Regions from separate parts of the Homo sapiens genome. Here region 1 is linked to region 2. Evidence: fine-mapped expression QTL. A gene starts in region 2. The other region holds a variant in brackets. All regions are shown on one strand. Distances are from middle to middle. Region 1 overlaps LAMA2 (laminin subunit alpha 2). Region 2 holds the start of LAMA2 (laminin subunit alpha 2).

Evidence for each region. PIP is the estimated chance that this variant, and not a neighbour inherited with it, causes the effect.
Region 1: its variant is fine-mapped to the expression of LAMA2 in blood mononuclear cells (TOPMed, PIP 0.98). The same link has a PIP of 0.9 or more in NK cells.

The regions. Positions count from the first base shown.
Region 1 is chr6:129,362,595-129,366,594 of GRCh38, forward strand. LAMA2 (laminin subunit alpha 2) reads left to right here. Exons shown (of 65, transcript NM_000426.4): 33 at 3,625-3,767. Among named protein-coding and RNA genes, the nearest start is that of ARHGAP18, 350 kb to the right of the region's middle. The variant G/A (reference allele first, on the strand shown) is at 2,411.
Region 2 is chr6:128,880,864-128,885,337 of GRCh38, forward strand. It overlaps LAMA2 (laminin subunit alpha 2), which reads left to right and starts at 2,275. Exons shown (of 65, transcript NM_000426.4): 1 at 2,275-2,494. The coding sequence starts at 2,383.

The DNA of each region.
Region 1 (4,000 bases), 480 kb after region 2:
TGTACAAGACCCTTTCCTAGGCACCATAACCAAGGTGTTTAAGGTCCCTTCTTTAACGAGGAAGAAAGAATATATAAATAAATTAAGTAATAATGTAGCCCAAACAGGCATAAGTGTTAAGAAAGCAAAGGAAATGCAGTAGTGACTGGCGCAGGGTATAGGGCTGGGGGTGGTGGGGAGTTTCAGGTAACAGTAATTTTAGAATCATCAGGGACTTGCTCTCTGAAAAAGTGACACTTGAGCACTTGACCTGAACACCTAGGAACCAGGTGGGAGAAGACCAAGGGAGAAGAATTCTAGGTAGAGAAGACAGCAAGCAAAAGGACCTCTTCCAAATCCTTGCTCCCTTGAAGATTGAGCATCCCTATAATTTATCACCTGGTCCAGTGGTTTTATCCTTTGGCTACATGGTTTTTCAATTACTGGAATATTTTTAAAATACAGTGGTTCACGCCTATGATCCCAGCACTTGGGGAAGCTGAGGTGGGAGGATCACTTGAGGCCAGGAGTCTGACATCAGCCAGGGCAACACAGCAAGACCCCATCTCTATGTTAAAAAACTAGCTGGATGTGGTGGCATGTGCCTGTAGTCTCAACCACTCGGGAGGCTGAGGCAGGAGGATCACTTTAGCCCAGGAGTTTGAGGCCGCAGTGAGTCATGATCACACCACTGTACTCCAGCATGGGTGGCAGAGCAAGACCCTGTCTCAGAAAAAAATAAAAATAGAAATACTGATGGTTAGACCTTACCACAGACCCATCAAAAATCATATTCTGTGGTGGTGAGGAGGGAAAGAGCCCAGGCATCTGTATTTTATAAATGTTCATGTGATTCCAATGGGCAGCCAAAGGTGAGAACCACTGATCCACACCAATGTTGTCACATTCTAATGTGCAGAGATAATGTGGGACGCAGATTCTGATTTCCTAGATCTGGGGTAGAGCCCGATTATACATTTCTAATAAGCTTCCAGGTGGTGCCAAAACTGTTGGTCTGATTGCTACTCAAAGTGTGGTGCACAGACCAACAGTAGCAATATCACCTGGGAGCTTGTTAGAAAAGCACATTCTCAGTCAGAGACTAAGAGAAACCAGGTGATCAAATCACCTCCTGATTCAGAAATACTAGGGGGTGTGGACCAGCCCTCTAGGATTTCCGAAAGTCCTACTGGTGGTTCTGAGGCCCACTAAAGCTTGAGAACCAGACTGTGGATCTTGGTGTTTAGACACAGTCAATTTGGCACTTAACTGAGTTCTATGTTGTGTTTTCTCTAATTGTTTAATGTGGACAAGTCTGTTGAAGTTTGCATTGAACGGGGCTATGAAGCCAAAATAATCTTTTACTTGGTTTCCATGCAGTGCAAATTTGGTTTCATTCTGGCTAGGAGAAGAGTAAGAGATATAGCCCTAGTTCCAGACTTCTGCTCTGGCCTCCAAAGCCTCTTTGTTCATTCAGCTTGTGAAGCATCAGGAGCTTGCAAAGCCCCTGCAGGTGACGCTCTACAGTTGTCACCTGCAAGAAGCTGCAGGTGTCACCTGCAAGAAGCTGATTTATTAAAAGCCCTGCCAGGGCAGTTTAATCCCTGTGAAGTGATATTGTAACTCACCTCTAGCTGCTGTCCTATCAAAAAATCACTCTCCGTCCTCCTTCTCTTTGTTTACAAGCACCAGTTAATGGTTTTCTCTCCATTAAGCAGCTCAGGGGACTGCTGTTTAGAGACCTAATTGAATTCTTGCCAAGTTTGGGCATGATCCAGAGCTGCTCCAATTCTCGGTATTTTCCATGCTATGTATTTTCCCCTATTCTAACATGTATATAGCATTGATACCTCTATCTGCAGAATGTAAGAAATTGTAACTGTATACATGAGAGTATATTATAAATGCAGTAGTTCCTGCTCCTTGGCGTGCAGATACACCTCATTACTCTGCAATGCAAAACTAAAAATATACATGTTTTTTAAATCTGCTAAAAGATTCAATATATGTTAATTTTGGAAATTATACGACTATTTATGAGATCTATTCCATAATGAAGAGTCAACAATCCATTTGTCTCTCTACCAATTCTACCACCTATCCTGGCCCCTACCACCAAATTTGAATAGCACCTCTTTGATGGCCAAAAATATTATGGTGAGTGTATTAGTCCATTTTCGTATTGCTATAAAGAAATGCCTGAAGCTCGGCAATTTGTAAAGAAAAGAGGTATAATTGGCTCATGGTTCCATCAGGCTGTACAGGAAGCATGGCTGGGGTGGCCTCAGGGAACTTTCACTCATGGCAGAAGGCAAAGCTGGAGCAGGCATCTTCACACAGGCAGAGCAGGAGGAAGTGGGGGCTGGAGGTGGCACACACTTTTAAATAACCAGGTCTTATGAGAACTCTGTCATGAGAACATCACTAGGGC[G/A]GTGGTGCTAAGCCATTAAAACCACTCCAGTGATTCAATACCTCCCACGAGGCCCCATATCCAGTATTGGGGATGACATTTCAATATGAGATTTGGATGGGGACACAGATCCAAACCATATCTGGTAGAATATTAGCATTCTTGGCTACTTAAAGAATATAGTTTTTCTAGCCTTTAGCAATTATTTATCTATAAGACTGAAAGAGGTTAATCATCAAAGTAGGGATTTGTGAGACTGCATCTAATCATGGGTGGTAATAGACTGAAGGGATAAAGAGGAACAGTTGGCAAATAAATAAGTCAATAAATATTATCATAAGAAAACACTATAGAAAGAAAAGTTATTTTTATTTTGACTTTTTATTTTATTTTTTGGGGGGTGGAGTCTCAGTCTGTCGCCCAGGCTGGAGTGCAGTGGTGCAATCTTGGCTCACTGCAACCTCCGCCTCCCAGTTTCAAGTGATTCTCCTGCCTCAGCCTTCTGGGTAGCTGAGACTACAGGGGCCCGCCACCACGCCTGGCTAATTTTTGTATTTTTAGTAGAGACAGGGTTTCACCATGTTGGTCAGGCTGGTCTTGAACTCCTGACCTCAGGTGATCCACCCACCTCGGCCTCTCAAAGTGTTGGGATTACAGGCATGAGCCACCACACCCGGCCTTCTTTAGACTTTTTTTTTTTTTAATTATTCTACTCAATAGATACCAAGCTAAAAATTTATATACTTTTTGAATGTGTAATACATAAAGCATGTGGAGGTCAAATTACTATGACTTTCTCCAGTGCAATCTAATGGAGCACCACACATTTAGACTCTGGAGCATGTTTTATTCCCTGTGGACAGGTTCCTTTCGATTGCTCATGTAGGGATTTAGGGGGTACTTTTAATGTTATATTCTATGCCTTAAAGGAAATCTTCAATACTTGTGCAATACACTTTTTCTCCCCAAATCTATTTGCTCCTCCTCTTTGGTCCCTCAGTTTATATTATCGCCTCTATTTCAGGTTCTGGGCGACATGCATATCTGTTCTTTTGTTGTTGTTCTTATCTTTCCTCAACCATCATCCATTTGATAGCATTAATATTCTGAGATGAGTAGTTTCATCTTCCATGGAATTATTCTTGGACCATAAAATATTTCATAGCTGAATTCTTTGAACATCTGCCTGGGATGTTTAGCAGAAGTAACTACTCTTTGTCACTTCTCTTTCACAGTTTGTGGAGATGAGTGCACTGGCCTTCTTCTCGGTGACTTGGCTCGCCTGGAGCAGATGGTCATGAGCATCAACCTCACTGGTCCGCTGCCTGCGCCATATAAAATGCTGTATGGTCTTGAAAATATGACTCAGGAGCTAAAGGTAGGTTGGTGCAGTCACAAGCAAGGGCCAGGGACAAGGTGACAGAAGCTTCACAAGCGGTATTGGCTGTAATTGGTAAATGTTCTTCCCACAGCCCCAAATCAAGGGACACAACTGTTAGGGAAATTCAGAGACTTTCTTAACCAGTGTTTTTCAAACTCAAGAACTATAATATACAGATTTCTATTAAGGGAAAAGAGTCTCATGTACCCCCCAGTGTCTGGCCTAAATCA
Region 2 (4,474 bases):
TCAAATGAGCATATTTATTGTGTGTAAATTGTACCTTATTTAGGTTTATTTGGAAAAAATATAGCTCTAAATATACTGGTTCATTTTAATTTGGGTTAAATATTTAAGAATTTTTTCCATGTGCTGAATCAAACAAGTAGAGTTGACAGTGGAGATCATAGTCTTATTCTCAAGGCATTTTCATGTAAAATAGGAACTCAGGTAACTGCAGTAACTGCAGAAAAGCAGGTACAAATATTGATTATAAAATCCTGGGAAAATGTAAAGAGGAAGGGGATAGAGGGAACATGGTATATTTTCATTCCACAATTAGAGTTAGCAGCTGCATCATTCTGATTTTCCTTTTTATAAATATTTTTTATTATTTATTAGATTAACTAATTTGAGTTGAGGCCACAACATGGTTGAGTAAAAATAATCATTTTCCTTTTTATAAATATTCAATAAAACTTTTCCTTTTTATAAATATTTTTTATTATTTATTAGATTAACTAATTTGAGTTGAGGCCACAACGTGGTTGAGTAAAAATAATCATTCTGAGAATAGCAATAGGTTTAGAAGGTTAATTTAGGGTGCCTCTCTGCTATTAGATGTACCTGAAAAACACTTCTAGGCAAAATTAGACCAAATTAAAAACACTGGGGCTTCAATTATAATAAACTCTCAAATATAAGTTTTATTATTGTTTATTATAATAATAAATAATGTATAAGTGTGCAGACATGGGCAGACTACATTTTGCAAATTTCCACAGTAAGGTAAAAGGATTACAAAGCTTTCTGGTATAATATTAACAGAACTAAAAGACATGAATAATATTAAAGAATGGGCTTTGGCTAGTGATTTTCAATCAATTCTCTTCAAAGCAATACTCTCTTAATTTTACTGAAAGAAAATTCAACTTTAATATAATATTTAGATAAATCAATACATCTTAACTATAAAAAAGAAAACTATCTATATAAGACAATATGTATTTCAACATATAAATGCTTGGGTAAAACTTCCTTAGGAGGCAAAATAAAATAAAAGTTTGCACCTATTCTTAGATGACCCCAGTGTAATCGATGGGATGTTGATATTGTGCTGGTGACTCAAGTACCATGGGCAAGGTTGTTATCAGTGATGTGCTTCTCTGAAAGTACATCTTTACACCCATTGACAAATGGGTGTAAAATCCAAAAACACAAAGTAAATTATCTTCTCAATGTATATAGTAGATGCATCCTAGAAAAAAACAAACAAACAAACAAAAAACACACACAAAAATTTGATGTGGAAACAAACTTAAATTAGGTTTCAAATATAAGGCAAGGTTTTGTTGTTTTGTTTGTTTGTTTACTCACTACATAAATGACCAGTGGCCCATTCAGAAGTCTAAGGACAAAATATGTTGTAGGACTGTCCTGACCACTGAGGGACAGCTCACACCCTGACCCAACAGTACACTAATGCCTGCAGTACCCACCGTTCCCGGAGTAAACCAAAAGACATCCTGCGACTCACAAAATCCATTATGGAGTTGTTTTAAACCTTATGAGAACCACTGACCTAGGCCATAAAAAACAAATGAAAAAACAACAAAAACTAGGAATGGCAGTAGTTCTGTTGAGTTAAAGAGGAGAAAGAGGAGAAACCAGGACTGGAAGAGATGAAATTGTGAGTCTGGAAGGAAACTATTGCAAAGGCCTTTATTACCTTTAAGTAAATGTCTCCTAACTGAACTGAAAGCCTTCATTCTAACCATTAGTTTGGTCAGGAACATTTCAGGGACGCCAGGGTGGCTGTTTTATTTTGCACTTCCTTTACTGCCCTCCCAGCAGCCTACCTAGCAGTAAGTTCCCCAGCCTGCAGTGTCCCCAGAGGGCACCTTCCCTCGGCTAGTAACTTCTCAGACACTCTGGCCTTGGGGATGTCTTGGATCTTCTAGGTACACAGTGGCTGCACACAGTTTTGCCAGGCCTTTCTCAAGAGGTAAAAGTTCCTAGCTGTTTGCATTTCCCAGAAATAATGTTTTCCATGTGTAGGGATTTTACAGATTTCAAAGTGCTTTCATGTCAATTACTTTCTTTAATTTAAAAGAAGTTCAGATACCAGGTCAAGCTAGGAATGATCCGGTCTCAGAGGGAAGGAGCGCTCTAGGAAAGGAGGATCCTTTAATAGAGGGCCGTCCTGGGGCCGCGTGCCCATGGAAGGCGAGAGTGGAGGAGTGTCCTCTTTCTCCCCCACCCTCAGGCGGCGGCCCGGCCAAAGCCAGAGGGGGCTGTCTCCTCCTCTTCCCCAGCAGCTGCTGCTCGCTCAGCTCACAAGCCAAGGCCAGGGGACAGGGCGGCAGCGACTCCTCTGGCTCCCGAGAAGTGGATCCGGTCGCGGCCACTACGATGCCGGGAGCCGCCGGGGTCCTCCTCCTTCTGCTGCTCTCCGGAGGCCTCGGGGGCGTACAGGCGCAGCGGCCGCAGCAGCAGCGGCAGTCACAGGCACATCAGCAAAGAGGTACAGTCGAGGCATGGGCTTGGGTTGCATCCTTTGCCGGGACCGAGATTCCTCACTTCTTCCACTCTTCCGAGAGTTGCTGTCTGTGGACTGCCGTCTTGCTTCGCCTTCAGAGAGTGCGCTCTGGGGCAAGAGGAACTTGAAGCAAGTTCAAGTTCAATGCCATGAGAGCGTAGTGTAGGGGGAATTACCTAAGTCCTGCAAAAGGAACGGGGAGTGCTTTTCATTGTTCTTTAGTTTCGAAGAGGTCTTGCTATCACGATACATCCCGTAAATTGATTTCTGAAATCTTTCCAAGAGGAAAACTTTTTCCAATTGGAAAAAAAAGAATTTCTTCAAATCAGAGCCCATCCTGCAGAGAAAGGCTTCCCAAGCTGTGTGGTTCATCCTGGGACTTTATGGAGGGTAGCTGATGCATCAAAAAAAAATTATATATATATATATACACACACACACACACACACACACACACACACACATATATATATATATAAAGTTTTACAGAACTTTGTTTTCAACTTTTAAAACAGGATTTCTAAAGAAGTTATGTGGTTTTTTTTCTTTCATGGCAATGGCGCCTCCAGCCTCACCTTTTTCAAACCCACATCTTATCTTCATATCCTATTTTATTGTAGTGAAATCGTGAAATTTCTCCTTTTGCTTAAATACAGAGGAGACTTCTATGTCATGTGTACTTTAAGGCCACAGTGACTAGATATACACTTTGGAGGACTTTGGAAGATGGCTGTATTTAATGTAACTTAAATAACTTATTCTCCTCAGAGCCTCTTAGTGTTTATGTATATATAGCTCTCATTTCTGAAACTTTGGGGAGTCTTTGAAGAGTTATTTTATTATCATGAATTTTACAGGAAGCACATGTGCAGCATTGTAAGACATACTTTGTAACACATTATTTCAGCAAACAATTCTTTAAGTTGGAAAACCTGTATCAAAGTAAAAAAAAAAGAAATATTTATTATTCGGTTTTAAATATGAAAATGTTTAACCTAAGAGTACAAAATCTGTAGGTTAGAAGCTTTTAAAAGTTTTAATGAGGCTGAATCTGCTTAAGTTTTGAAGTATACTTATCCTTCTTCCAGTTAACTTCTAGCCAAGTCAATAGTTCTGATATTTGTTCTTATAATCTAGCATTTTTAGCAGTACTATTTTTTAAGGAGTAAAGAGATATCCCAAGCTCTTTCTATAATAATAACTCCCTGATTAAAATTCTTGGAATAAAAATGACCTTGCATTCACTATATAACTTTTTTCCTTCTATTTTTGCTTTTGCTTCTCTGAGAGGTAAAATGGGGCCAATATGACTTAATTAATATAATTTACGAGAGTGATTTTAAGAGTATCTCTGGCCACTTATTTTTAAAAATTCTACTTTTAACTATTAAACTTTGCTCAATTACAAGGTGTGTTTAAACAAGACATAATACTTTAATAATGTTAGGCAGCTGGGAGAAATGAGGGGCCAGGGGCACCAATCCTTATGTCCACTTGGAATGGGGCAGAAACTCAAAGCATGCAGAGTAAGGATCAAGTAAATTGTTGCTAAGAATTATCCTGAACACACACAGGATTTCTCTTTTTTCCTCTCCCTTCTTATTTACTCTCTTTTCAAATAAGGTAATATTAACTCTGATTTCTATGACCCAGGCACAAGATGAAGTGAATTCAGGAGGAAGGGTTTATACTACCATTCTGTCAAGATACCACTTAAATGCTACATACAATAAGGAATTTTATTCAAAATAGCTACAACATACAATCTACTATAGGCTGCTATAATCTGCATTCTAGTATATATTATTGTCTTTGTCATAGACCATTTACAATATATCTGGAGGTTGGCTCAAGGATAAATGACTTAAACCTGTTAATGTTGAAAGTATGTAAAATTCATGAAACTTTAAAATTGGATAGTGATTTATGATTTAAAAATGCCTTATGTACACGATCTTTATTCAC